7 linked regions of the Homo sapiens genome follow. The protein of the gene in region 6 interacts with the protein of the main gene of each other region in a pairwise test. Each region holds a gene or a part of one and is shown on either strand. Other genes may lie near its edges. The genes, in order: CLN3, CCT8, HACL1, TPPP, EEF1D, MAGEB6 and FMR1.

Region 1 (3,500 bases), on a different chromosome or scaffold from region 6:
GGAGTGAAGTGAGGGGCAGGGGTTTGGTACCTGCAGCAGGGCCAGGGCCCAGGTGAAACGGATGCGACAGCAGCGGAGAGAAGAGCGGGAGGCAAAGACGCCAGCCTGGTACAGCATCTGGTACCTGAGGTTAGGGTTGGGGGGAGGAGAGGAGGCTCCTCCAGGGACCATCCCGCTCCCCCCGGTGCCTACTGGGCAGGGCAGCTGCATCACCACGGCGCCCTCCCAGCCCACTGCCCTCGCTCCTCTTACCAGCGGTATTGCTGAGCGTGACTCAGGGAAGTGTTCCAGAAAAAGAGGAGTTCAAACTGCAACAAATACCAGACAGGGGAGATGGACGGGGCTGTGTGGGTCCCAGCCCCAATCGCCACCTCCACACCCCTCCTAGCACCCCTCACTTACAAGTCCCTGGTTAATGAAATACTCGGCAAAGTAAACTACGACCAAGGGAACAATGTACCACAGCAGACCCTGGAAAAGGCAGAAGATATAAGCGGGGGGCCTGGAGGTGAGCAAGCCCCACAGGGACATACCCCAGCCATCATCCGAACCTTGAACACTGTCCACCTTTCCCGAAGGGAGAGGCTGGAGCTGGAGCCTGCAGGGGAACAGAGAGAGAAGGGCAGATGAAGTTTTCACACTGAAGACTCGGCAAAGAGGCACCGGTATGACAGAATTAACCAGACCACGCAACAGTGGGAACTCACTTCCATGCCACTGGATTGGACACTTAAAAATGGTTAAAATGGCTGGGCGCAGTGGCTCATGCTTGTAATCCCAGCACCTTGGGAGACTGAGGTGGGCGGATCACCTGAGGTCAGGAGTTCAAGACCACCCTGGCCAACATGGAGAAACCCCATCTCTACTAAAAATACAAAAATTAGCCATGTGTGGTGGCAGGTGTCTGTAGTCCCAGCTACTCGGGTGGCTGAGGCAGGAGAATCACTTGAACCCAGGAGGCAGAGGTTGTAGTGAGCTGAGATTGCGCCATTGCACTCCAGCCTGGGCAACAAGAGCGAAACTCCACCTCAAAAAAATAAAGTAAGATAAAAAATAATAAAATGGTAAACTTCAAGTAATATACATACTTTATCATGATGAAAATAAAAGCTAACCAGGTGAGACCTCTTCACGTCTCTTTGATTTTTAATTTTTTTTATTTTTTGAGACAGAGTCTCACTCAGTTGCCCAGGCTGCAGTGCAGTGGTGCAATCTCAGCTCACTGCAGCCTCTGCCTCCTGGGTTCAAGTGATTCTCGTGCCTCAGCTTCCCAAGTAGCTGGGACTACAGGCATGCACCACCACACCTGGCTAATTTTTTTATTTTTAGTAGAGACGGGGTTTTACCATGTTGGCCAGACTGGTCTCAAACTCTTGATCTCAAATGATCCATCTGCCTCAGCCTCCCAAAGTGCTGGGATTACAGGTATGAACCACCACGCCCGGCCAATGTCTCTTGTACAGCTCCACAGATGGCCATTGGCCCACCCTGCCCAGTCTCACTGGCCATTCTCTGGTTCTAGAACATCCCAGCTTATCCCCACCGCAGGGCCTCAGCACTTGTGATTGGAATGCCTGGCACATGGTAAGTACTCAATTAATATCCCTTCTTCTCTCCCTCCCTTCCTTCCTTTCTTTTCTTTTTTTTTTTTTTTTTTTTTTTTTTGCGACAAGGTCTTGCTCTGTTGCCCAGGCTGGACTCAGACTTCTGAGCTCAAGTGGTCCTCCTGCCTCAGCCTCCCAAAGTGCTGGGATATTACAGGCGTGAGCCACTGTGCTCGTCCTCAACAAGTATTTCTCAAATAGACAAAGGCTTTTCCCATAACCAGTACACTCACTCTCTTTCCCCTCTTAACTTTGCCTATTGCAGAGAGGAAAAGGCCAAACCCAGAGAGAAAGAAAGTGACCTCTCTGAGGGTCTGTGTCTCCTACCTGGCTTCGACTCCGGGGCCTCGGTTCTTATGAGGGGCTGCCGGGCTGCGCTCTCTGCTTCTTCTTCCCCTCCAGGGTCCTGGGCCTCAGGAGATGTGAGCAACAAGAAATAGCTAGGAGTAGGATGAAGGCAGGGTCAGAAAACCCTACTGGCTGGGAAGGTCCCCAGGGACCATCTAGGCCACTTTTCCCAGGGAACACCTCTACCTTTGAACACTTTCAAAGATGGGTAGCTCACTGCCTCTAAGGCTCCTACGCTGTGCGGGAGAGCTCCAATTGTGGACAAAGGCTTCTTTCTTTGGACCTGAATTTATCTCCTTATTCCTATTCATGGGCCTTCATTTTGTTTTGATTTTTTTCAGAGACAGGGTCTTTCTCCAGCATCCAGGCTGGAATGCAGTGGTGCAATCATAGCTCACTGCAGCCGCGACCTCCCAGGCTCAAGCAATCCTCCCGCCTCAGCCTCCCAAGTAGCGGGGACTACAGGCACGTGCCACCAAGCCCGCCTCATATTTTCCATTTTTTGTATAAATGGAGTCTCGCTATGTTGCCCAGGCTGGTCTCAAATTTCTAGCCTCTAGTGGTCCTCCAGCCTCAGCCTCCTAAAGCACTGGGATTACAGCTGTGAGCCACTGTGCTCAGCAGGCCCTTGTTCGGACTGCTGGCTCATACCTAGCGAGTCAGTTCTGTTTTCTGGCCATTATTATTCTAATGGTCGCTCTAGCTCCCATTAATTATACGTTCACTCTGTGCTAGGCCAGAACTTCCTCGATTTTAGTCACTTAGGTTCTGGCTTCATGTTATTTGCCATATCCATATTCCTCCTGTATATATATATTTTTACTTAATATTTTTCTTTAAATGGACTCACTTTTTCTACTTAGACTTGTCCTAAGCACTAATCTTGTGAAGGGCCAGGTGTGTCTGGCTAGTTCAAAGTGTGTGTTTTTTTTTTTTTTAGACGGAGTCTCGCTCTGTTGCCCAGCCTGGAGTGCAGTGGCACAATCACGGCTCACTGCAACCTCTGCCTCCTGGGTTCAAGCGATTCTTCTCCTCAGCCTCCCAAGTAGCTGGGACTACAGGCAAGCGCCACCAAGCCTGGCTAATTTTTGTATTTTTAGTAGAGACGGGGTTTCACCATATTGGCCAGGCTGGTCTCAAACTCCTGACCTCGTGGTGCGCCCGCCTCGGCCTCCCAAAGTGCTGGGATTACAGATGTGAGCCACCATGCCCGGCCAAAGTGTTTTGTAATATGCATGAAAATACACAGAACTAATCAGGCCGGGCGCGGTGGCTCACGCCTGTATTCCTAGCATTATGGGAGGCCAAGGCAGGTGGATCACTTGAGGTCAGGAGTTTGAGACCAGCCTGGCCAATACAGTGAAACCCCGTCTCTACTAAAAATATAAAAAATTAGCCAGGCATGGTGGCATGGGCCTGTAGTCCCAGCTACTCGGGAGGCTGAGGCAGGAGAATCACTAGAGCCCGGGAGGCCGAGGCTGCAGTGAGCTGAGATCACACCAGTCACTGCACTCCAGCCTGAGTGACACCATGAGACTCCGTCTCAAA
Region 2 (3,500 bases), on a different chromosome or scaffold from region 6:
GCATATATTATGAAGCAGCAGAATACTGTATGTGTGAAATAGAAACTCAGCTTGCTTCTAGAACCCCCTGTCAAAACAGATGCATCTGCTTTTGATAAGTACTTAGGTGGAAAAGTACTTTTATCTATTTATTTATTTTGAGACAGAGTCTCACTCTGTCACCATGCTGGAGTGCAGGCAGGATCTCGGCTCACCGCAACCTCTGACTCCCTGGTTCAAGCGATTCTCCTGCCTCAGCCTCCCAAGTAGCTGGGATTACAGGCAAGCGCCACCACGCCCAGCTAATTTTTGCATTTTTAGTAGAGACGGGGTTTCACCATGTTGGCCAGGCTGGTCTTGAACTCCTGACCTCGTGATTTGCCTGCCTTGGCCTATGCTGGGATTACAGGCGTGAGATACCGTGCCCGGCCGAGAAGTGCTTTTATTTTAAATATGTCAGGTAGGTAGGTGTCCTGGTGTTTGTCTTTTGACAAAGGCTAACTAGTGTTCCCAATACAACATTGTGGTTCTCAAACTTTTTCTAAAATGTGGACTAGGCCGGGCGCGGTGGCTCATGCCTGTAATCCTAGCACTCTGGGAGGCCAAGGCGGGTGGATCACTTGCAGTCAGGAGTTGGAGACCAGTCTGGCCAACATGGTGAAACTTTGTCTCTATTAAAAATACAAAAATTAGCCAGAGATCACTTGAACCCAGGAGGCGGAGGTTGCAGGGAGCCAAGATTGTACCACTGGACTCAAGCCTGGGTGACAAAGCAAGACTCTAAAAAAAAAAAAAAAAAAAAAAAAAAAGAATAAAATACAATAAAATAAAATATGGACCAAATGACCAGACCCCCCTCATGCTACAAAATTTTAAAACTATCAACAACTTGGATTTCAAGAATTCTAGAGATGAAGTCAGCCACTATTGACTATAAACACAAACTTCAAACTTTCTAACATGTATTTTTAGAAACATACTTACCATTTTCAAATTACATTAGCTTATCTTGTTTTAGGATGCTACAGAATGTCAACTTTATTTTCGTGAAGAGCACACAAAATACTCACATTCTCATATTCTTTCACTTGCTGAATGTATAAGCTCTACTAGAAGGGCTGTGTGTCAGATTATAAATAATACGGCCACCATCTTTATATTTCCAGTTTAATGTTCAGTAGTTGAATTAGATATTTGAAGACTATAAATCTGGCATAAAAAAATAGGTAAGATCCTGCAATGTTCAGTTTTTTAAGAAGTACTTACTGGTTTAAGAGCTAACTCAAACAATCTGAAAGTGCAACCCCAATTATTACTTTTAAGGTTTGAAGTCTACATACCTTAGTTTCTGTTATCATGCCATCAAAAGGACAAGAGTACACTGCTATTTTTGCATCTTTGACAGATGTTACATCACCTTCGGTTTCCTTCTTAAAAACCATGCCATGCAATACTGAAGAGGAACTGATACCAGAGCCCTAAGGAATTGAATACCAAACTCATCAGCAATCTCCTGAAAATAACATTACGGTCAAACTGTTGATTCTCCATATACCAAAAATATCCCTTTCTAAAATAAAGTCATAAACCAAGGCAGTGACTCCTGGGATAAGGGGTGGAGTGGTGGACATACAGCACACCCTTCTGCTCGAGGCAGAAATCACTGAGGGAATGAGCTACTTTTAGGGAGGGGAGGTCCTTCCATGTACTGGGAAGAACCAAAGGCAGAGAACTGGTCTTAGCCATTCAGTTACCTAGTACTTGGTGCCAATATACCAGCCACAGCTGTCAGTACTGCAAATACAACACAGAACAAAGCAAAGATTCTGTTCTCACAAGGTTGCATTTAATGGGAAAAGCTGGCAGTACGTGGAGGGAGACAGCAAACATAGAACACGTGAGTATCTTCAGGGAAAGCACATGTACTTATGTTATGCTAAATTCACATTAACAATCAGAATGCCAATGTGCAAAACCAAAACCATTCCACTGATAGGTTTTACTCTATCAAGCACATTTTATCAAAAATATACTTTAATATTTCAATACTAACATTAAAGTGTGAATTCTATTATTGAAGAGGAATAGGACGATTTCCACCCCACTCAAAACTGTCTTATAAGCTTATTATAATTCAGAGTATTATGAAGAACACAAAAAAATTAGTATTTTGCGCTGGGCGCGGTGGCTCACACCTGTAATCTCAGCACTTTGGGAGGCCAAGGTGGGCAGATCATGAGGTCAGGAGTTCGAGACCAGCCTGGCCAACATGGTGAAACCCTGCCTCTACTAAAAAAATACAAAAATTAGCTGGACATGGTGGCATGCACCTGTAATCCAGCTACTTGGGAGGTTGAGGCAGGAAAACCACTTGAACCTGGGAGGTGGAGGTTGCAGTGAGCCGAGGTCGAGGCACTGCACTCCAACCTGGGCAACAGAGCCAGACTCCATCTCAAAAAAAAAAAAAAAAAAAATTTAGTATTTTGTTTATACATTATTCTTAAACCCACAAGACATCACAGAAAATGACTTTATAAGGAGATAATATGTCAATATCCTTTTAAACTTAAATAGGTAGTAGTATTATTACAACTTAGCAACATCAAAATGTTACAAAATAATGCCTCAAAGGCCAGGCACGGTGGTTCACGCCTGTTAATCCCAGCACTTTGGGAGGCCAAGGCAGGTGGATCACCTGAGGTCGGGAGTTCGAGACCAGCCTGACCAACACGGAGAAACCCCATCTCTACTAAAAATACAAAATTAGCCGGGTGTGGTGGCGCATGCCTGTAATCCCAGCTACTCGGGAGGCTGGGACTGGAGAATCACTTGAACCGGGAGGCGGAGGTTGCGGTGAGCCGAGGTCATGTCATTGCACTCCAACCTGGGCAACAAGAGCGAGACTCCGTCTCAAAAATAAATAAGTACATAAATAAAAATAATGCCTCAAAAAAAGTCCTAAGTGTTCAAATCATGAAGTAACATTTAGGTTTAGATGAACACATTTTTTTTTTTTTGCACAAAAAAACAAAAAAAGCACACAAAAAAACTGACCTAGATATGTAGCATTAATGCATTTTCTACTTACCAGAATTTTACAAACTCTGATGTTATCAACATTGAAATGGCCGGAATCAGGAAAAATAGATACTGTTAAGAAAATGAGACATATCAAAAGATTATTTTGGGACAACAGAGAAAGTATCTAGTCATGTTAAAGGTATTTTTATTTTGGATCTTTTCATTTACTGATATTTACTTACCGCATGCCTGAGCAATAAGCTTGGCCAGAAATACTTCATTACCATATTGTTTACTCATTATGGAGGTACGAAGTAGAGATGAGACTTCATCAATATCTCGAAGGTTTTTTGCAGAACAACATACCAAATTAGGAAGAATCTCATGAGCTTTTCTGCAGGCTATTTCATAACCTTCTATGACCTAAAACATAAACAACATTTCCTATTCTGACATGACTTAAAGTAGCTTATTTTGGTAACCCAATGCATATGGATGTT
Region 3 (3,500 bases), on a different chromosome or scaffold from region 6:
GTGGAACCTCTGCCTCCTGGGTTCAAGCGATCCTCATGCCTCAGCTTCCCCAGTAGCTGGGATTACAGGCATGCACCACCACACCCAGCTAATTTTTGTATTTTAGTAGAGATGGGGTTTCACTATGTTGGCCAGGATGGTCTCTGTCTCTTGACCTCATGATCTGCTGGCCTTGGCCTCCCAAAGGGCTGGGATTACAGGCGTGAGCCACCATGCCCGGCCGAAAAGTTCATATTTAAAACATTTTTGCTGTTTGAATGAACTTCTGGAGCTGCACTGGCAAGTATAGTAGCCACGAGCCGTATGACTTGTTTACATTTAAATTAATTAAAATTAAATAACATTTAAATCATAGTTTATCAGTTTGTAGTAGCCACATTTCAAGTGCTCAGTAACCATGTCAGTAGTGGCTACCGTATCATACTGCAAATGCAGAACATTTCTATTACTATACAAAGTTCTGTTGGATAGTACTGTTCTAGAAGTTTAGTTTACTTGGTGGTAATTACTTATTTTCAAGTCTGTCTTAAACAGAAATTTTTAAGAAATTATTTTATAAGTGTAAAATGGTGAACTGAATTATATTGAGATACCTTTTTCCCGAGTGGTTTAAGCTTAGAAAGTCACACTGAAGGGTAAAACATTCAAGTTCAATATTTATTTATTTGGAGTCTCACTCTGTCGTCTCCATGCTGGAGTGCAGTGGCACCATCTCGGCTCACTGCAAACTCCACCTCCCAGGTTCCAGCGATTCTCCTGCCTCAGCCTCCCAAGTAGCTGGCACTACAGGTGTGCACCACCATACTCAGCTAGTTTTTATATTTTTTAGAGACAGGGTTTCATCATGTTGCCCAGGCTGGTCTTGAACTCCTAGACTCAAGTGATCCATCTGCCTCAGCCTCTCAAGATGCTGGGATTACAGACGTCAGCCACCGTGCTCAGCCTCAAATTCAGTTTTAAAAGATTTTGGGGACCAGGCGCGGTGGCTCATGCCTGTAATCCCAGCACTTTGGGAGGCCGAGGCGGGTGGATCACCTGAGGCCAGGAGTTGGAGACAAGCCTGGCCAAACATGGTGAAACCCCGTCTCTACTAAAAATACAAAAATTAGCCGGGTGTGGTGGCACATGCCTGTAATCCCAGCTACTTGGGAGGCTGAGGCAGGAGAATCACTTGAATCCGGGAGGCGGAGGTTGCAGTGAGCCGAGATCACACCATTGCACTGCAGCCTGGGGAACAAGAACGAGACTTCGTCTCAAAAAAAAAAAAAAAAAAGACAAAAAAAAAAACACAAAACATTTTGGGCAGAGCACTGCATTCAGAATTACTTTCCTATCAAAGATCAGTCGACGTTATATTTATTTGTTAAGAAATGAAAAAAAAACCTTTTTTCATACAAAAATGAACTCAGCAGTCAAAAATTTGCTTCTGTATACCATTAACTTGATTTAGTCCAGATGTAGTCCAGATCAAAATAAGTGGTTAGAGACATAAGGTGTGAAAATGATAGGTACCTTATTTCTCACAAGAAATCCGATATCTTTCTTTTTTTGGGCCAGGCATGCTGGCTTATGCCTGTAATCCCAGCACTTTGGGAGGCCAAGGCAGGCAGATTGCTTGAGCCCAGGAGTTCAAGACCAGCCTGGGCAACATGGTGAAACCCCATCTCTACCAAAAAAAAATACAAAAAATTAGCCGGGTGTGGTGGCATCTGCCTGTAGTCCCGGTTACTTGGGAGGCTGTGGTGGGAAGATCACCTGAGCTTAGGAGGTTGAGGCTGCAGTGAGCCCTGATCATGCCACTGCACTCCAGCCTGAGCAACAGAGTGAGATGCTATCTCAAAAAAAAAGTGTGTATATATATACACACACGCACATATATATGTGTGTATATATACACACATATATACGTATGTGTGTATGTGTGTATATATACATATATACGTATGTGTGTGTATATATACACACACATATATGTATATGTGTGTGTATATATACACTTTTTTTGAGATAGCATCTCACTCTTGCCCAGAGTATATATGTACATATGCGTACATGTGTATACACGCACACATGTGCGTACATGTGTATACACGCACACATGTGCGTACATGTGTATACACGCACACATGTGCGTACATGTGTATACACGCACACATGTGCGTACATGTGTATACACGCACACATGTGCGTACATGTGTATACACGCACACATGTGCGTACATGTGTATACACGCACACATGTGCGTACATGTGTATACACGCACACATGTGCGTACATGTGTATACACGCACACATGTGCGTACATGTGTATACACGCACACATGTGCGTACATGTGTATACACGCACACATGTGCGTACATGTGTATACACGCACACATGTGCGTACATGTGTATACACGCACACATGTGCGTACATGTGTATACACGCACACATGTGCGTACATGTGTATACACGCACACATGTGCGTACATGTGTATACACGCACACATGTGCGTACATGTGTATACACGCACACATGTGCGTACATGTGTATACATGTGTATATGTATACAAGTGTATATACAAGTGTATATGTATACAAGTGTATGTATACGTGTGTGTATGTATACGTGTGTGTATGTATACGTGTGTCTACATGCATACGTGTGTGTATACGTGTGTCTACATGTATACACGTGTGTGTATACGTGTGTCTGTATGTATACATATATATAGAGTATACTCTGGTGCCCAGAGTATATATACATATATGTATACATATATATACGTATGTATACATATACACGTATGTATACGTATATATGGATCCATATATACACGTATGTATACGTATATACGTATGTATACATATATACACGCATGTATACATATATACGTATGTATACATATATACATGCATGTATACGTATATACGTATGTATACATATATACACGTATGTATACGTATATAGTGTGTATATATACGTATATAGTGTGTGTATATATACGTATACGTATATACGTATATATACGTATATAGTGTGTGTATATATACGTATGTAGTGTGTGTATATATACGTATATAGTATATACTATAGGTATATAGTGTGTATATATATACACTATGTATATAGTGTGTGTATATATACACGTATATACGTATATATACACTATATACATATATAGTGTATACACTATATACGTATATGTGTGTATGTATATATATCGCGATATATATATATCGCCTTGTTTTTTAATTAAAAATATTCTAATAATTGTTTTATCAGTTATAGTAAAGACTTGTATGTCCTTCCTTTGAAGTCCAAGATTGCCATGTTTCACACTAAAGTGTTATGAATCAGTTGTTACATTTGACCTGATTTTAATAAATTCTGTTTTGCTTTTAGGCCAGGAGTCTGCCTTGTTGTTTCTGGCCCAGGTCTCATCCATGCCTTGGGCGGTATGGCAAATGCAAACATGAACTGCTGGTAATGACATTATTATTACTGAAAACATTT
Region 4 (3,500 bases), on a different chromosome or scaffold from region 6:
TTTTCTCGAGGCCGTGCTTGTCTGAGGCCAACCAGGGACCAGGAGGCAGCGTCCTGGTGCCCAGCACCTCTCCTCAGTGTCCCTCGTCCCCACAGACCGGATCAGGGCCTGGCGAGCCTCTGTGCCTGCCGTGCGGTGTGAGGACCCGCGGACCCCAACCCGCCCTTCCCTCCGTCCTGACCCGGCGCCAGGCTCAGCTCCAGGGCGAGGTCCTCTGGAGTCATGTTCGTTCTGCGTGGCTTGGCCGTGACTGTGGGGACTGGGCTGCCCACGGACAGAAAGGAGAAACGCAGCCTGTGACCAGGAGACGCAGCCCAGGGTGGAGCCGCGCTGGGGCCAGGGAGGCCGAGGAGGGCAGGAGTCCGAGGGTGTAAGGGTGCCAGGGCCTTCCGGGTCTCAGGCTTCGGGACCTGGGGAGCCACCCTGTTTGGTGACCACTCGTCCTCGGCCTTTTCAACACAAGGGCTTTGGAGTTGTGATGGGCTGTTATCGGGTGATTCCGGTGGCCACTCGTCTGTGATCGGGTGATTCCGATGACTGCTCGTCTGTGATCGGGCGATTCTGGTGACCGCTCGTCTGTGATCGGGTGAGTCCGATGACTGCTCGTCTGTGATCGGGTGATTCCGATGACTGCTCGTCTGTGATCGGGCGAGTCTGGTGACCGCTCGTCTGTGATCGGGTGAGTCCGATGACTGCTCGTCTGTGATCGGGTGATTCCGATGACTGCTTGTCTGTGATTGGGCGATTCCGGTGGCCGCTCGTCTGTGATCGGGCGATTCCGGTGACCGCTCGTCTGTGATCGGGTGAGTCCGATGACTGCTCGTCTGTGACCGGGCGATTCCGGTGACCGCTCGTCTGTGATCGGGTGATTCCGAACCGCACATTCAGAGTTGTTTTCAAATGTTTCCGCACGTTAGTTCTGCCTTTCACACGCGGTCCAGCCAGGTTCAGCGGGGGCACAGGGCTGGGCTTGGGCACCCCCCGCCTTCCCCAGGCCGGTGAGGTGACATCCTAAAGGAGCCACGAAGCCTGAGGTCCATTTTTCCTTGCTCTTTATTTCCAGGCACTGAACTTCCCAGCCCTGCCGTGGAAGCTGCCTGCCAGGTCCTCCCCATCCTCAGGTGGAGGCTTCTCTGTTGAGGGGCCTCGGAGACCGCCCCCCAGCCCTCAGCGGACCATGCTGGCTGGGAGCTCCGCCCTGGGGCTTCTGCTCTGCTCAGGTAGGGGGAGTCCTTCCACGGAGCTGTGGCCGCAGCAGGTGCACTCTTGGGAGTCGGGGAGGCGGGTGGTGCTCATGCGTGCCAGTGAGGGAGGGGCCTCGCCACCCTCCTGTACTGTGAGCCTGGCCCTGGGCAGCCCTCTGCCCTGGCCAGAGCCTGACCGTAGCCACGGGCTAACAGGCTCTGGAAAAGTTTCCCCAGGACTGCCGCAGGCTCATCCGCAGGTAGACTCCAGAACCACGGCCCAGCAGGTCACACGTGTGGCTGTGGCTGTGTGCGTGCCAAGGGACAGTGGCAGTGTGCCATTGTGACAGCGGGTGGCCACACCCGTCAGCCTCCCCAGGAGGGAGCAGGAGCGCCGGCTTCTCCCCAGGTGCAGACAGGCAAGGGCGGGCCGCCTGGGTGTGTCCTGGCAGTGTGGAGTGTCCTGGATGGGCTCTGCTCAGCCCCCTGCTGGCAGAGAAACCCCCACAGACACTGCAGGACTGGGGGTCCTCCCTAGTGTCCTGCTCTCCGGCGGGGGGGATTGGCCAGGAGAGGTTAGGCTGAGCCATTTTGGGAGAGTTGAAGAAGGTGCTTGGGCTGTGGCAATGGGAGGTCTGCGAGCAAACAGGGTGCAGCTAGTGAGGACGGGCGAACGGGAGGGCCGGGCAGAGGCTCTGTCACGCGGTGAGGCGAGGAGTGTCTCGGCACTTCGTGTCTCTTGCCTGGCAACACCACAGGGACCGGACATTCTGAATCTTCCCAGACCCGCTCTGAGAACATAGGCAGCCACCGCATCTTCTCAGGAAAGCAAAGCGAGCCTACTCTACCCTCACAGTCCAAGCCACTGTGGTCAGCCGGGAAGCCGCCCACTGCCCCTGACGGCTTTCGTTTTACCTAGGTTGCCCTTGGCACAGAGCTGGCCTGTAGGCATGTGTGCACAGGTGTGTCCATGTGACCGGCTTCCCCACACATGTGCCAGGCGCCCAGCACCCCCGCCAGGTGGCCTCACTCTGCCCTCTGCCCAGGAAAGCAGGAAGGCCCCGTGGTGTCCGCTGCACACAGGACAGGCCTCGGGCCCCACAGACACCTCCCACGTCCGGTGTGGGGCCAATTCCGTGTTAGTTGCCTGCTGGTTGGGGTTAGCTCCTGCCACCCTCAGGGCTCCTGGAAGGTGTCTGCCGCTCAGGAGGTCAGCACAGCCTCCTGTTGCCATGACAGCCAGCTGCTTTAAAACGCCCCTTTGACCTGCAAACCACGTGCCCAGTGTGGTGTGATCCGCGAGACACTTTGGAAATGGCTGAGGACGAGGCAGGTGTATTAGGAGGGTCAGCGAACTGGGGCCCAAACCTGGTTTGAGAGGGGAGTGCTGGGGGCATCCGGTAGGAGGAGGGGCAGGAGGGAGGCCTGGGCCTGGCCGCCCCCCAGCCCCCTCTGGGGCACCCGTCTGAGTTCTGCCCCAGTTAGTACAGGAATGTAATGAAGTGCGAGGTGACAGAGTCCCTGCTCTGGGGACACCGGCAGTGCCGCGAGGCATGGAGCGGGGGCTACTTGCCCCCTTGCACCTTCTGGTCGTAGGTGCCTGCGTGCTTGTAGCCGGACACATAGCCTGACTCGTCCACCAGATCCACGCGGCCAGCCTTGCCCTTGCCCTTGCCAGAGGGGTCGAAGCGCTCCTTGTGGGAGCCCGTGAACTTGGTGGTGTCCGTGAGCCTCGACACTGTGGGCGACGAGATGGCTTTCTGCAAGAGGAGCAGGAGGAAGGGGGCAGGTGAGTTGCGAGCCAGGTGAGGCCAGCAAGTGAAATGGCTGTGCCCTGGGCAGGTCTCCCAGCGGTGGGGCACTGGGCAAGGGGCATAAACCCTGGGATTTATGCCCCTTTTAATTCTTATTTTTACCTCTCCTGACCCTGGGGCAGCCTTGGGCCTGCGGGGTGCCACAACCCTAACAATTGCCCAGGTCCACCTGGTGTTTATGTAGTTGGGGACCCCACCACCTGCACCCTCAGAGGGAAGGGGCTGTCAGAACAGCCAGGCCCCACCCTCCAGGCTATGCCCCCCCAATCCATGCCCCTTCAGACCAAGCCTCCCCAGGACCCCCCCAGGCCACGCCGACCTGGCCATGCCTCCCAGGACCCACCCACCCCCTCCCAGGCCAACTCCCAGTCCATGCCCTTCCTGACCACGCCTCCCCAGGCCTCACCCTCCAGGCTATGCCCCATTCATGCCCCTTCTGACCACACCTCCTCAGACCCCACACCAGGCCACGCCCTCCTGACCACGCCTCCCAGGACCCCCC
Region 5 (3,500 bases), on a different chromosome or scaffold from region 6:
GCCTCCTGGGTTCAAGCGATTTTCCTGCCTCAGCCTCCCGAGTAACTGGGACTACCAGTGCACACCACTGTGCCTGGCTAATTTTTTGTATTTTTAGTAGACAAGGTTTCACCATGTTGGCCAGGCTGGTCTTGAACTCCTGATCTCAGGTGATCCACCCGCCTCGGCCTCCCAAAGTGCTGGGATTACAGGCGTGAGCCACCGTGCCCGGCCCATTTCTCAGTTTTAATTGCTAATGTGGTAAAAATCAATAGATACAATGAAAGCTCTTTGGGGTCCTGAGAGCAAGAAGGTTGAGAATTGCTGCCCTAGACAGGGACCATGGCCCGCAGGCAAATCCAGCCTGTGGTTTTACTGGCACAAAGCCCCACCTCGTGCCACTCCCACTGGCCAGCAGCAGAGGAGCTGGGCAGATGACTCTGTGGCCGGGGCCCAGACCCTCTGGTTCTTTATGGAGTTTGCCGCCCCCCACCCTGGACTGGCCAAGACCCTCTTACTGTCCAACCAAGCACAACAGAACTGTCCCCCTCCTGCCCTGCCGCCAGTCTGTGTGTGGACTCCGGACCATCGCTGGACCTTGCCAAGTGTCCTCTCGGTAACAAAGGGCTGGAGTCTGTGAGCGTCCTCTGCGTCCCTGACCCAGGACACTCTCTCGGCAAGGAGGGACCAGGCCACCGTGAACACCAGGGCAGGTGGAAGGGCAGGAGGTAGCATTCCCCTATGGGGTCCTGCCCTCAGGTTATCTTGTTAACCAGCAAATCCAGACCCCTAGGGGTCCAAGGTTGGAACCACTTCCTTGGGGGCCTCAGCAGCTGCTTGGGACCTTCAGAGTCCTTCCCTGACTCAGCCCGCCCCACCACCAGGACACCCTCGCCAACAGGCCAGCCTCGCCACTTCCATGCCCTCTGTATTCCCCTCCAAGTCCAATCGTCCACCCACCTGCCTGGCCCCAGAGACCGCTGCTGGGGTTGCACCTGCACCCTGGAGCAAGCCCACAGCACCCAGAGGGAGGTCACACAGACGGGGCACCCTGGGATGGAGGCCACCTGACCAGCCACATGCCCATGCATCTGAGACGCCACCACCTTCCCTCAGAGGTGGTTTCAGGTGACAAGGAAAGCTGGGGGTGCACAGGATGGACAGGCAGGGACACACTGGCTCCCACATCTCATCGCAGGGGAGCGCTAGGGCCAGAAACCAGCTTCAATGCTTCCCGCCCCTATAAGTAGCCTTATCTTCTCAGCCCTGGCATGTGACAGCCACAGGGGACTTGGGGAGCTTCCCAGCCAAAGAGGGACCCTGGGCAAGGCAGAGATTCTGCCCTGTGCTGAGCCCTTCCCTGCCCTCATCCAGGCAGCCTGGAACTTTGTAACCTCAAGCAGTGTCCCTGGAACCCACAAGCGCAGCACCACCTTTACTCAGCCTGCTCCTGCATTCAACTCTGCTGGGCCCACGGGTCTCGGGGAGCCCCCACCCCAGGTGGGCAGGGGAGGAAGCTGGAGGAGCCCCAGCCTGGGATGGCTGTCCCTGTGCCCACAGCCCAGGCTGGGTGCCCACCCAGCACGTTTCTCCTACTTGGGTCTCAGGCTGGACACGGACAGGCCAGACCGAGGACCGGGTCGGTGAGACAGGGAGGCAGCTTCGAGGCACCAGGCCACCCGCAGGGCCTCGGCAGCGTGGTGGCGGCACTCGGCGCTGTCGTAGGCAGGCTTGCTGAGCCAGGGGGCCTCTGCATCCTTCTGCAGGAAGTAACAGTAGGGCAAGGCAGAGGGGGCCTCCCCATCGGCCCGTCGCAGCCCGGCCCGCTTGTTCCCTAAGATGTTGCGGCCCCGCCGGTCTCTGCGGCCCCGCCGGGCACCCTCGGCCAGGCCGGCTCGCTCTTGCAGGCGCACCTTCCCTGGGGGATGGCCGTCAAACAGGGCCTCGTAGAAGCCCCTCTCGGCTGCATCATACCGGGGCTTCTCCAGCCACACCTCCCGAACCAGTGCCTGCAGGCTGCCCAGCGGGGGCTGGCCATTGACCGGTGGGCTGGGCTGGTGGGCCAGGTCGGGGACGGCCACCTGCTGGCCTGTGTTGGGAGTCCCCTGCCTGCGGCTGCCGTCGGGGGCCAGCAACAGGGCCTGAGACCACTCCACGAAGGCCCGCTCAGCCTGGTCGAAGGAGGACTTGTTGACCCAGATCCCCCAGGTCACGTGGTGGCAGGCCACCTGGTTTCCATGGGTGCAGAGACCCCAAGGGGCCAAGGCAGGAGGCCAGGCTGCCTGGGCAGCCACATCTGCCAGCTTCTGGCGGTAGGAGCTCTCTGCCTGGTCGAAAAGTGACTTGTCCAGCCACACGCGTTCGGCCGAGAGGCCCAGGAGGGCCAGGTCCGCGGGGCCGAGCCCGCTCTTGGGGGAGCGCTTCCTCTTTTTCTGCAGGGGCTTCCTGCTGTCCTGGCTCTTCCTGGGATCACGCCTGCTGCCGCCGTCAGGGGCTTCCGCCTCATCAGCGTCCTCAGGGTCGTCCTGGCCGGGCCCATTCATGGCTGGCCCCTCGGCTGGCAGCTGCTGGGCGGAGGCGGCCGCCTGTGTGGCCTCGTGTTCGTAGAAGCGCCGCTCGGCCTCCTCATACTTGTGCTTGTCTTCCCACACGGTCTCCAGGGTGCAGGAGGCCTTCCCGCTCCTCATCTTCCGGACACAGCGATAAAAAGCAAGCAGAGGGCAGAGTTGCAACACAGCGGGTGGCCGCAGCCCCGTGCCCACCCTCCCCGTGCCCGCCCTCCCCGTGGCTGCCCTCCCTGGGCAGGGGCTGAGGATGCTCCCCAGTGGGGCTTCCATGAGATGACATTCGAGGACTTCGAAGTCAAGCCCATGTGGGGACGTTTTGTTGTGAAGAGAAAACAGGCCGGGCGCAGTGGCTCATGCCTGTAATCTCAGTACTCTGGGAGGCCAAGTGCCTCCCAATACATGAACAATATATAATTTTGTTAGTGAATGTATGGCCCATGAAGTATCTGAGACATACTTACACTAAAAATTTTTCGTCATTTATCTGAAATAAGCTTTAACTGGCTAACTAGCTTTCCCTGCATTTTTCCACAGGCCAGGCCTGGCCACCCCACCATGGTGGCTGGTGTTCCCATTCTACAGAACGGTCTCTGTGGCTGTCCTGGCCACACCACTGCCACACCCAGAGCACCCTCAAAGTTCTTACAAAAGAAGGAGCCTCGGCCAGGCACGGTGGCTCACACCTGTAATCCCAACACTTTGGGAGGCCGAGGCGGGCGGATCACAGGGTCTGGAGACTGAGACCATCCTGGCTAACACGTTGAAACCCTGTCTCTACTAAAAATAAAAATAAAAATTAGCCGGGCGTGGTGGCAGGCGCCTGTAGTCCCAGCTCCTAGGGAGGCTGAGGCAGGAGAATGGCGTGAAGCCGGGAGGCGGAGCTTGCAGTGAACCGAGATGGCGCCACTGCACTCCAGCCTGGACAACAGAGCAGGGGAAAAGAAAAAAAAAGAG
Region 6 (4,161 bases):
TACATATCTTGTTCCCTCCAGCCTCTACTATACTGCACTACTTAGAAAGCTCACTACTCTCTTCTAACATAAAGTGAAAATTCTACTTCAGACCTCCCTAGAAATGGGAGGATCTGTAGGATATGGCCCCATAAGGTACCCTGGCCAAGGAAATAGTGCCAGCCCTGCCTTAAGCTCTCAGTCTCAATGCTCTCTCTACCTCATCTATCAAAGCGTCTTCATACAGATGTGGGTATAAACCGGGACTGGTGTTACTGCTGTCGGCCAAAACACGCAGGACTCTCATCTTGGTGGTTTCAGCATAGGCTCGTGGACCCCACAGGAACTCATAGCATGGAGGATCACTGTTGCACACCTGCCGGTAAACCACGTACTTATCTTGCACCAAATCTTCAGTAATGATCTTCCGAGCATCCCCATAGATTGAATGCAGGATCCCATCATATATCCCCAACAGACCCAGGAACTCCCAGACCTCCTCTTCAGTGGCACAGTTGCCGTTCATGAAGATCACAACCAGGAGCGACATCAGGAGACCCGACTTCGGCAGCGCATTATCACCACTCAGAATTCCTTCACTGGGGAGGCCTAGCTTGCTGACAAGGGTGTAGGACTCGCCGCTGGAATCCATTTCTTTCAATTCAACGCCAAAGGCCACCACCAAATGTTGGGAGGTTCTGTTGAGGATCTGAGGGAAGTAGGGCTTGTACTCTCTGCGGACACACTTCAGCATGTCTGCCTTCAAAATGGACTCTTTCTTCTCAAACTTCTTCTGCAGGAATTGCGCCAACGTGCACGCCTTCTTCTTTACAGCATCTTTGCTTAAGCGCTTAAAAATGATGGCTTTCTGTGAGGCGCTTACACTTTCCTCATCTTCACCCTCGGCAGCCACATCATATTTTGAGCCTGAAACACCTGCATCAGGCGAGCCAGTGGGTGAAGCTCCCTGAGACTCCTGAGGAACGGAGACATCATGGGAAGTGCTTGGACTTTTCTCATCTTGGCCGTTGGCAGCCACATCATATTTTGAGCCTGAAACACCTGCATCAGGAGAGCCAGTGGGTGAAGCTCCCTGAGACTCCTGAGGAACGGAGGCATCACGGGAGGTGCTTGGACTTTTCTCATCTTGGCCGTTGGCAGCCACATCGGATTTTGAATATGAAACAACTGCATCAGGAGACCCAGTGGGTGACACTCCCTGAGACTCCTGAGGAATGGAGGCATCAGAAGACCTACGACAATCACCCAGACAAGCGCGAGAAGAGGATGAGGAAGAGTGGGACTCTTCCTGCTTCTCTGCAGTGGCCTGGGGACCCGTGAGACCCTGTGGCTGACCATTGGTCTCTTGGCGTTTCTCACAGGTACGGAGCTTACTCTTGTGACCCCGAGGCATGATGGCTGTGGCCTGTGACAGCAGGTAGGAGTGTGGGTAGGAAGACTAGGAAGGCTGGCACCTGGATGGGAGAGAGTGACGTCACGTCAATATCTTCAGCAGAGAGCGACCATCTTGGCTTTAACTAGGGCCCCTTCTGCAGGTTTCCGCAGAACAGCTGCTCTAGGAACCCACAGGACTCCTTTTCTCCTGGTCAGTTTGTCTCCTTCAAACTCAGGAGGAAGTTAGAGTATTAGACTATAGCATGACAGCCCATTTTGGGGCTTACTGAGGTGACAGCAGGGGCTGGCAGTGGGGGCCCCTCTGTTCAGGGGTTGGATCCTCTCTGTTTACATTCAGGATCATCATTAAAACTGGAAACCATCATTCTCAGCAAACTATCGCAAGGACAAAAAACCAAACACCGCATGTTCTCACTCATAGGTGGGAAGTTAACAGTGAGAACACATGGACACAGGAAGGGGAACATCACACTCCGAGGACTGTTGTGGGGTGGGGGGAGGGGGGAGGGATAGCATTAGGAGATATACCTAGTGCTAAATGACGAGTTAATGGGTGCAGCACACCAGCATGGCACATGTATACATATGTAACAAACCTGCACATTGTGCACATGTACCCTAAAACTTAAAGTATAATAAAAAAAAAATTGTTGACAAGACCCAGAGGCCCATTTCCTTGTGCCACTCTGAAATTGACAGTAGGAATTTTAACCCGGAGGAAATAAGGAAGCACTTCTGCCCAACACTTCATTCCGGGGACACCCAGACCACCTAGGGCTGACAACAGCGGAGGCATTTGAGTGCTCTTCCAGTTATAGTGAGAATGCTCCTCACAGTAATTAGACTCCTCACCCTGACTCTTCCCACAACCTGGAAATCACCCTCACTGACCTGCTGCCATCTCCTTACAACCAGGGGCCTACCTCTCTGACTCTCACAGGGACAAAGTGAGAATGCACCTCAGTCTCTAGAGACCTGCCCGGACCCCCAGGCTAACGTCAAGGGCAGAGTTCGGTGCAACCCGTTACGGGACATGGAATCCCCTCCCTCAATTCTAAGGAGGGTCCTCTTAACTATGTAGGGCCTGAGATTTCTCCCTCTACTGACCTGGGTCCACAAGCCTTGGACCGAGGCCTTCATGTTCTTCAACACGACGGAAAAAAATGAATGGACTTTGGGCCTAACAGCCATGTTTGGGGACTCCTCAGGGACCAGGTCGGGGCAGGTTGGGGCAGGGCTCTGTGGAGCCGCCTTTCTTCGGGGGAAGGGGGTTGAAGTTGTCGGGGAATGCCCCCCGTTCTAGGTCAGGATACCCACCAAGACAGCTGAGAAGATCTGGGACGCCTCCTTCCGCTGACGTGACAGCACTTTTCAGGCTCAGGCGACCGGCTCAGACCCCTTTATTAGGTGGAAGTCAAGAGGAACCACTTCCGGCCACGCCCACCTGGCGCTCCCTGCGTAACAGTAGCTGCAGGGCTCTGTTACTCCCCCTTGTGTTCTGTGGGTGCAGCAGATTCCAGGGAACTCACGTAAAGTTCTTTCAGGGGCTCTTCGCGGACCCTTGGACTTCTCTATCTGTTGAGCTGAATCAGTCAACCGGAGATAGAGGCTCTCATTCCCTGAGAGTCCAGAGTTGGAAGTAAGGTGCAGCCTGAGCTCGGGAGCCATGCCGGGACCTTCCAAGACTGACAGTAGGGGTGGAGCTCTGTGAGACCCCCTTTTTGGAATGGACTTTGCCCTCAGCCCTCACTCAGTGTCGTCGCTTCATTCTTGCCATGTCCCCTCTACTGACTTGAGGACACCCTCTCAGACTAGACTTCAACTTCCTGAGACTCCTCATGTGCAATTCAGTTACACCTCACCTGGCCACTACTGCCTGGGGCCTCCTAAACCTGGCTGCTGCTATTAAGTTGTGATGCAAGATCGGGGAATGAAGGGAGATTTGGGGGGCACTCTTGTCTCTTCTGATATGTGGAGCCCCTCAGTCCTCACTCAGGGTCCTCACATTGACTGCTGGCAGGGTCTCAGTTTTCTCCATTTTCTGATGTAAATTCATCCCCTTCCTCTGACTAGATCCTGTAAAATTCATAAGGAGAAAGTGAGAAGACTTCTTAGCCTGATAGCTATGTCTGGGACTTCTCTCTTGGCTGACATCAGTGTCTGTATTCAACACCTTCATGAATGAATTTCTACCATTATCTTGTGTGACTCACTGCAATATTTGCTATCCTAATTTAGTCCATTCTTTATATTATATTAAAATAATACGAATTTAAAGGCCAGTCCACTTCCACTAAAGAAGTTTCAGGTAGTTATTAGCACAGTGTCTGGATTCATACTTCTTCAGCCTACCCAGATGTTTTTGCTGTGGCAATATTACCCCATGGAACTGGCACATAGGGTCCAAGTTTCTGACTGAATTTCCTTTAGTGAAGCAGAAAAAAAAATGCATTGTCCAATGGCACAGTGAAAGAAGCAAAGACCAAAGTTTTAAAGCTTTTCCTCTAGCCAATTCCGTTATCTGCGTCTGTTGTAGGCCACAGACCTGTCTCTACTTCAGCTCATGCCCCTACCTGCCCACACACCCATTCTTGTTCAATACAAACTGACCATCTCTCAAGGTTCGCATTTTTGTTGTTTTGCTGTTGTTAATACTGCTTTTTTTTTAAAAAAAAATTCTTCCTTTAACTTTTCTATGGTTGAGTTTGGTCATGGGAAAGAACCACCCGGGTTTGGTTGTCATCTTCACAGCTATGGCTAAGGCAA
Region 7 (3,500 bases), about 120 Mb from region 6:
ATTTCAATAATGTACTCTGAAAATTTTAAAAGGCTGAATCACAAGGAAAGTTTGAACTTCTCTCTATGGACACTACTTAACATAAGAACAGATTTTTAAAAGGCATATGCTAAATGTCTGTACTCCTAGCCCATATATATATATATTAAGAGGGAAAAAAAAAACAACTACTTCTTGTCACAAGTTATAGGGAAACCTAGAAACAATTGTGCAAATTAATAACTGGCAATTCATTTCTGCATGTTGGGTTTTTCTCCAACAAGCTTTATTTGTTACAAAAGCCTTTAACTGTATTATTTCCCAAAATACCATGTGATGGAATGAATGCTACACCCTTCCCTCTGGGTCAAATATCACCAAAATAGCTTTAAAATCCTATGTAACAGATTTAGTTAGATTGACTTCGGAGCAAATTATTTACGAATATCTTTTCTTGCAACATGTCTAAACTGCTGGAGTACCCCAAGGGCCACTCTAATTTAAGCACTTCACGAGTAGACCTGAATAGTAAATTAAAATGAAGAAAGGCAAGAATGGAATGATGGCCTTTAGTACGGACCCCAGAAAAAAGTTACTCTGTGTTCTGGAATAATGGGCTGCCCGGCAATGAGACATATCCAATCCACTTGCCGTTATAGTCCTCTTTGTAAAATGGCACCTTTGCTTTTAATCCATGAGTCCACAACATTTTTTTCCATAAACAGTTCTCACCAGCTCTCCCTGCCCTCAAAGAACTTACAATGTGGTTGAGGAGATCAACAAATAAACATCTATGTTTAAGTGCTATGCTAGGGGTGAGCACATTGCAAAACAGAAGGGGAAGGCTCTTGAACCAGTCAAGGGGGTGGGGATCTTCGGCAAGTACACAAGGAAAGCTTTGTAAGGAATAAGGTCAAAATGAGGTGACATGTGGAGGAGAAAAAGCATTCCAGGCAGAGTAAACCTGTACATATGTCTAGAAGCAAAATAAGCACGAGAATGTTCAGAGAACTCAAAGTACTTCAGTATGGCTTAAGGTTCTCTAGAGTGCAAGGGAGAAGATAATTTAAAGATGATAACTAGACAAGTAATTAGGAAAAGCCTTACAAGCGGCATGAAGGTGTTTAAGCTTTAACTCCAGGGCAATGGATCCACATACCCACAAACACTCCTCCCTCCAGTCCCTAATCCTGAGGATCATTTGTAATCTTTGTTAACAAGGGGAATAAACATTAAAATATAAACTGAAAGTGTATTTCTCAAGGAATGTTTTCCTACCTGCCAAGCCTTGAGTTCAGGTTTCTGGGATTCCCCTGCTACAACTGATGAAGCCACTAACACCTAAAGCAGTATAAGGAATGCAAGGGATGTCATTAACTATAACAAACGATACACAGAAGCCTGAACGCAGGACTTTCACTGCAGGACTTTTAAACCCATTTCTAAACAGATTAGTTCAAACAGAGAAAATTAGTTTCTAAAATATGGTTCAAGTAGTAACTAATGCAACTAACAGAAGGTGTATTTTGAGCTACGATACCTGCAAAATTTAAAGAGAGAAGGCATGGAAAAAAGAGAGTCCACTGTCAAAAGAAAAATGTGACCACTAAATGCAACCCCATTATTTTGTGTTTATGGCATAAGAGTTGTTACTGTGAATAAATTGAAAAGTATGTATCACACTAATTTGTAGTATCTCATAAGCTGGCAATTACATTTGGAAAAAAAATAGAACATAAGTAGCCTACAAGTCTAACCAGAGAAAACATCCAAAATACCAATTGTGACATCTGAGACAAATTACTTGTATTGTAATTCAAAGTGACAAGTAATTCTTACCCTCTGGACTTTTGTACTGTTAGGTTGAGAAAAATGGGTGCTGTTTTCCTTTATATCTAAATGTTTTTTTTCTTCTGGGGCATTAGGTCCAACCCTTGAATTATTGGAAGGAAGGGAATTTGGTGGCATAATTTCCTTGGTAAAAAACAGAAAACACAAAAGAGAAAAAAAGGACCAATTTAAGACTTTATTTAGCTCTATTAGTGTTATCAATCATCATATTTTTAAAAAATGTAAGTTATTATAAACAGTTTTGGTTTATAAAATTACCGAATACAAATTGTACGCAGAAAAAAAAGATTTAACTTTAGCTAAAAGAATCTTTCAAAAAGAAAGCTAGACAATATGTGAAAATTACGGCTCTTTGATGAGACAGTATCTTAAGAGTACTATTGCACAGAAAGGTGCATCCTCACCTCTCTACCCCATGCAAATACTTTAAAAGCTGCTACAAAAAGCATATATTTATGAAGATAAAAGGGTTACAGAATTTAAAGGTAAGGAGGATGGGGAAGAGATATTAAGCACAGAAATAAATTTAAAGCACACAGAATAAACACACATACTACACAATCCCCACACTAAAAAAGTGAAAAGATGAAAGCCAGAAAACCTGTGTTCCAATTTTGCTTTTGTCAGCAACATTAACATTTACAAAGTGCTTTACGAAGCATTTACATATATATTATTTTATTAAATTGCCATTAACACTCGACCCAGTGATGTATGTCTCATATTTAAAAATTTATAACTACCCATTTTAAAGATCAGGAAAAAAGAATTCAATAAAGTGACTAATCCAAACTCACTGCATTAGAGGACAGAGAAGGGCCATTATCTACAATTATAACATTAATTACAGCAGGCATGCTTGATAATCAGAATATTTGCATTCACTTTATGCACATATTAGAGGTCCTCAACATATCACATAAAAAACTTTTACTTTTATTATATGTGCCACAAAATATTCGCACTGTAACATACCTCTTCTTGTGGAACATTTTTCTCATTTTCAGCCTCAATCCTCACCCTCACAACTCCTGACTTGTCCACAATCTCCTGAATCAGCTTTCCATTTTTTCCTATTACTTTGCCTAAGAAATAAATAAATCAAGTTTGGTTTTAAAAACACATACCTCAAAGCAGTAAGCACAGCCCTACTGTAAACTATTACATTCATATAGATAGATATTTTTATGTGTATGTGTATGTATTGAATTGTAAGATTTCAAAACCAAAGTAGAGACTCTTTTCAACAAGATGGTTAATCTGGTTTTCTGTTTAATTAGGACATCATTGTTTAAACTCCTTTGGTCAGGTACCAGAGTTGATTAATACTTGCAAACTGATAGGGTAATTTTGGATTTTTAAGGCAGTTCAAAGATAACCTCTTATTTTTGCACAAAAGGGTACGCTTTAAACTTGCTGGTACTGTGGTATGTATCATTCTTTCTGCAAAGTTCTATAAGAATTAAGAAAAAAGTAGAGAGAATGGGAAATATATTCACTTATTCAACACTTTCAATTCTTGTCTGTACCTGATTTAAATCTGCTTCTTTGTCCATGGTAAATATTTTCAGAATTCTGTATGGAAGGCACATTTATAAAAGATAATCTAAGTCTGAAAGTGGCTTAAGCAGCTATACATACATCCAAAAGGAATACAAATTCTTCAAGGT

The links.
Region 1: the proteins of MAGEB6 (region 6) and CLN3 interact in binary tests that used the Homo sapiens proteins (3 or more experiments, as listed by UniProt).
Region 2: the proteins of MAGEB6 (region 6) and CCT8 interact in binary tests that used the Homo sapiens proteins (3 or more experiments, as listed by UniProt).
Region 3: the proteins of MAGEB6 (region 6) and HACL1 interact in binary tests that used the Homo sapiens proteins (3 or more experiments, as listed by UniProt).
Region 4: the proteins of MAGEB6 (region 6) and TPPP interact in binary tests that used the Homo sapiens proteins (3 or more experiments, as listed by UniProt).
Region 5: the proteins of MAGEB6 (region 6) and EEF1D interact in binary tests that used the Homo sapiens proteins (3 or more experiments, as listed by UniProt).
Region 7: the proteins of MAGEB6 (region 6) and FMR1 interact in binary tests that used the Homo sapiens proteins (3 or more experiments, as listed by UniProt).

What each region holds. Positions count from the first base shown.
Region 1 is NC_000016.10:28,482,075-28,485,574, forward strand, and holds part of CLN3 (battenin), read right to left. Parts: intron 2,045-3,500; coding exon 1,932-2,044; intron 599-1,931; coding exon 552-598; intron 472-551; coding exon 403-471; intron 309-402; coding exon 253-308; intron 125-252; coding exon 31-124; intron 1-30.
Region 2 is NC_000021.9:29,063,649-29,067,148, forward strand, and holds part of CCT8 (T-complex protein 1 subunit theta), read right to left. Parts: intron 3,424-3,500; coding exon 3,243-3,423; intron 3,130-3,242; coding exon 3,068-3,129; intron 1,458-3,067; coding exon 1,320-1,457; intron 1-1,319. UniProt on the Homo sapiens protein: Component of the chaperonin-containing T-complex (TRiC), a molecular chaperone complex that assists the folding of actin, tubulin and other proteins upon ATP hydrolysis.
Region 3 is NC_000003.12:15,591,570-15,595,069, reverse strand, and holds part of HACL1 (2-hydroxyacyl-CoA lyase 1), read left to right. Parts: intron 1-3,389; coding exon 3,390-3,470; intron 3,471-3,500. UniProt on the Homo sapiens protein: Peroxisomal 2-OH acyl-CoA lyase involved in the cleavage (C1 removal) reaction in the fatty acid alpha-oxydation in a thiamine pyrophosphate (TPP)-dependent manner.
Region 4 is NC_000005.10:662,353-665,852, forward strand, and holds part of TPPP (tubulin polymerization-promoting protein), read right to left. Parts: intron 2,974-3,500; exon of another isoform or gene 2,945-2,973; coding exon 2,750-2,944; 3' UTR 1-2,749.
Region 5 is NC_000008.11:143,587,416-143,590,915, forward strand, and holds part of EEF1D (elongation factor 1-delta), read right to left. Parts: exon of another isoform or gene 3,193-3,500; intron 2,667-3,192; coding exon 1,576-2,666; intron 1-1,575.
Region 6 is NC_000023.11:26,191,079-26,195,239, reverse strand, and holds the start of MAGEB6 (melanoma-associated antigen B6), read right to left. Parts: upstream 2,801-4,161; 5' UTR 2,713-2,800; intron 1,455-2,712; 5' UTR 1,394-1,454; coding exon 170-1,393; 3' UTR 1-169.
Region 7 is NC_000023.11:147,935,919-147,939,418, reverse strand, and holds part of FMR1 (fragile X messenger ribonucleoprotein 1), read right to left. Parts: intron 2,916-3,500; coding exon 2,806-2,915; intron 1,954-2,805; coding exon 1,819-1,953; intron 1,321-1,818; coding exon 1,258-1,320; intron 1-1,257.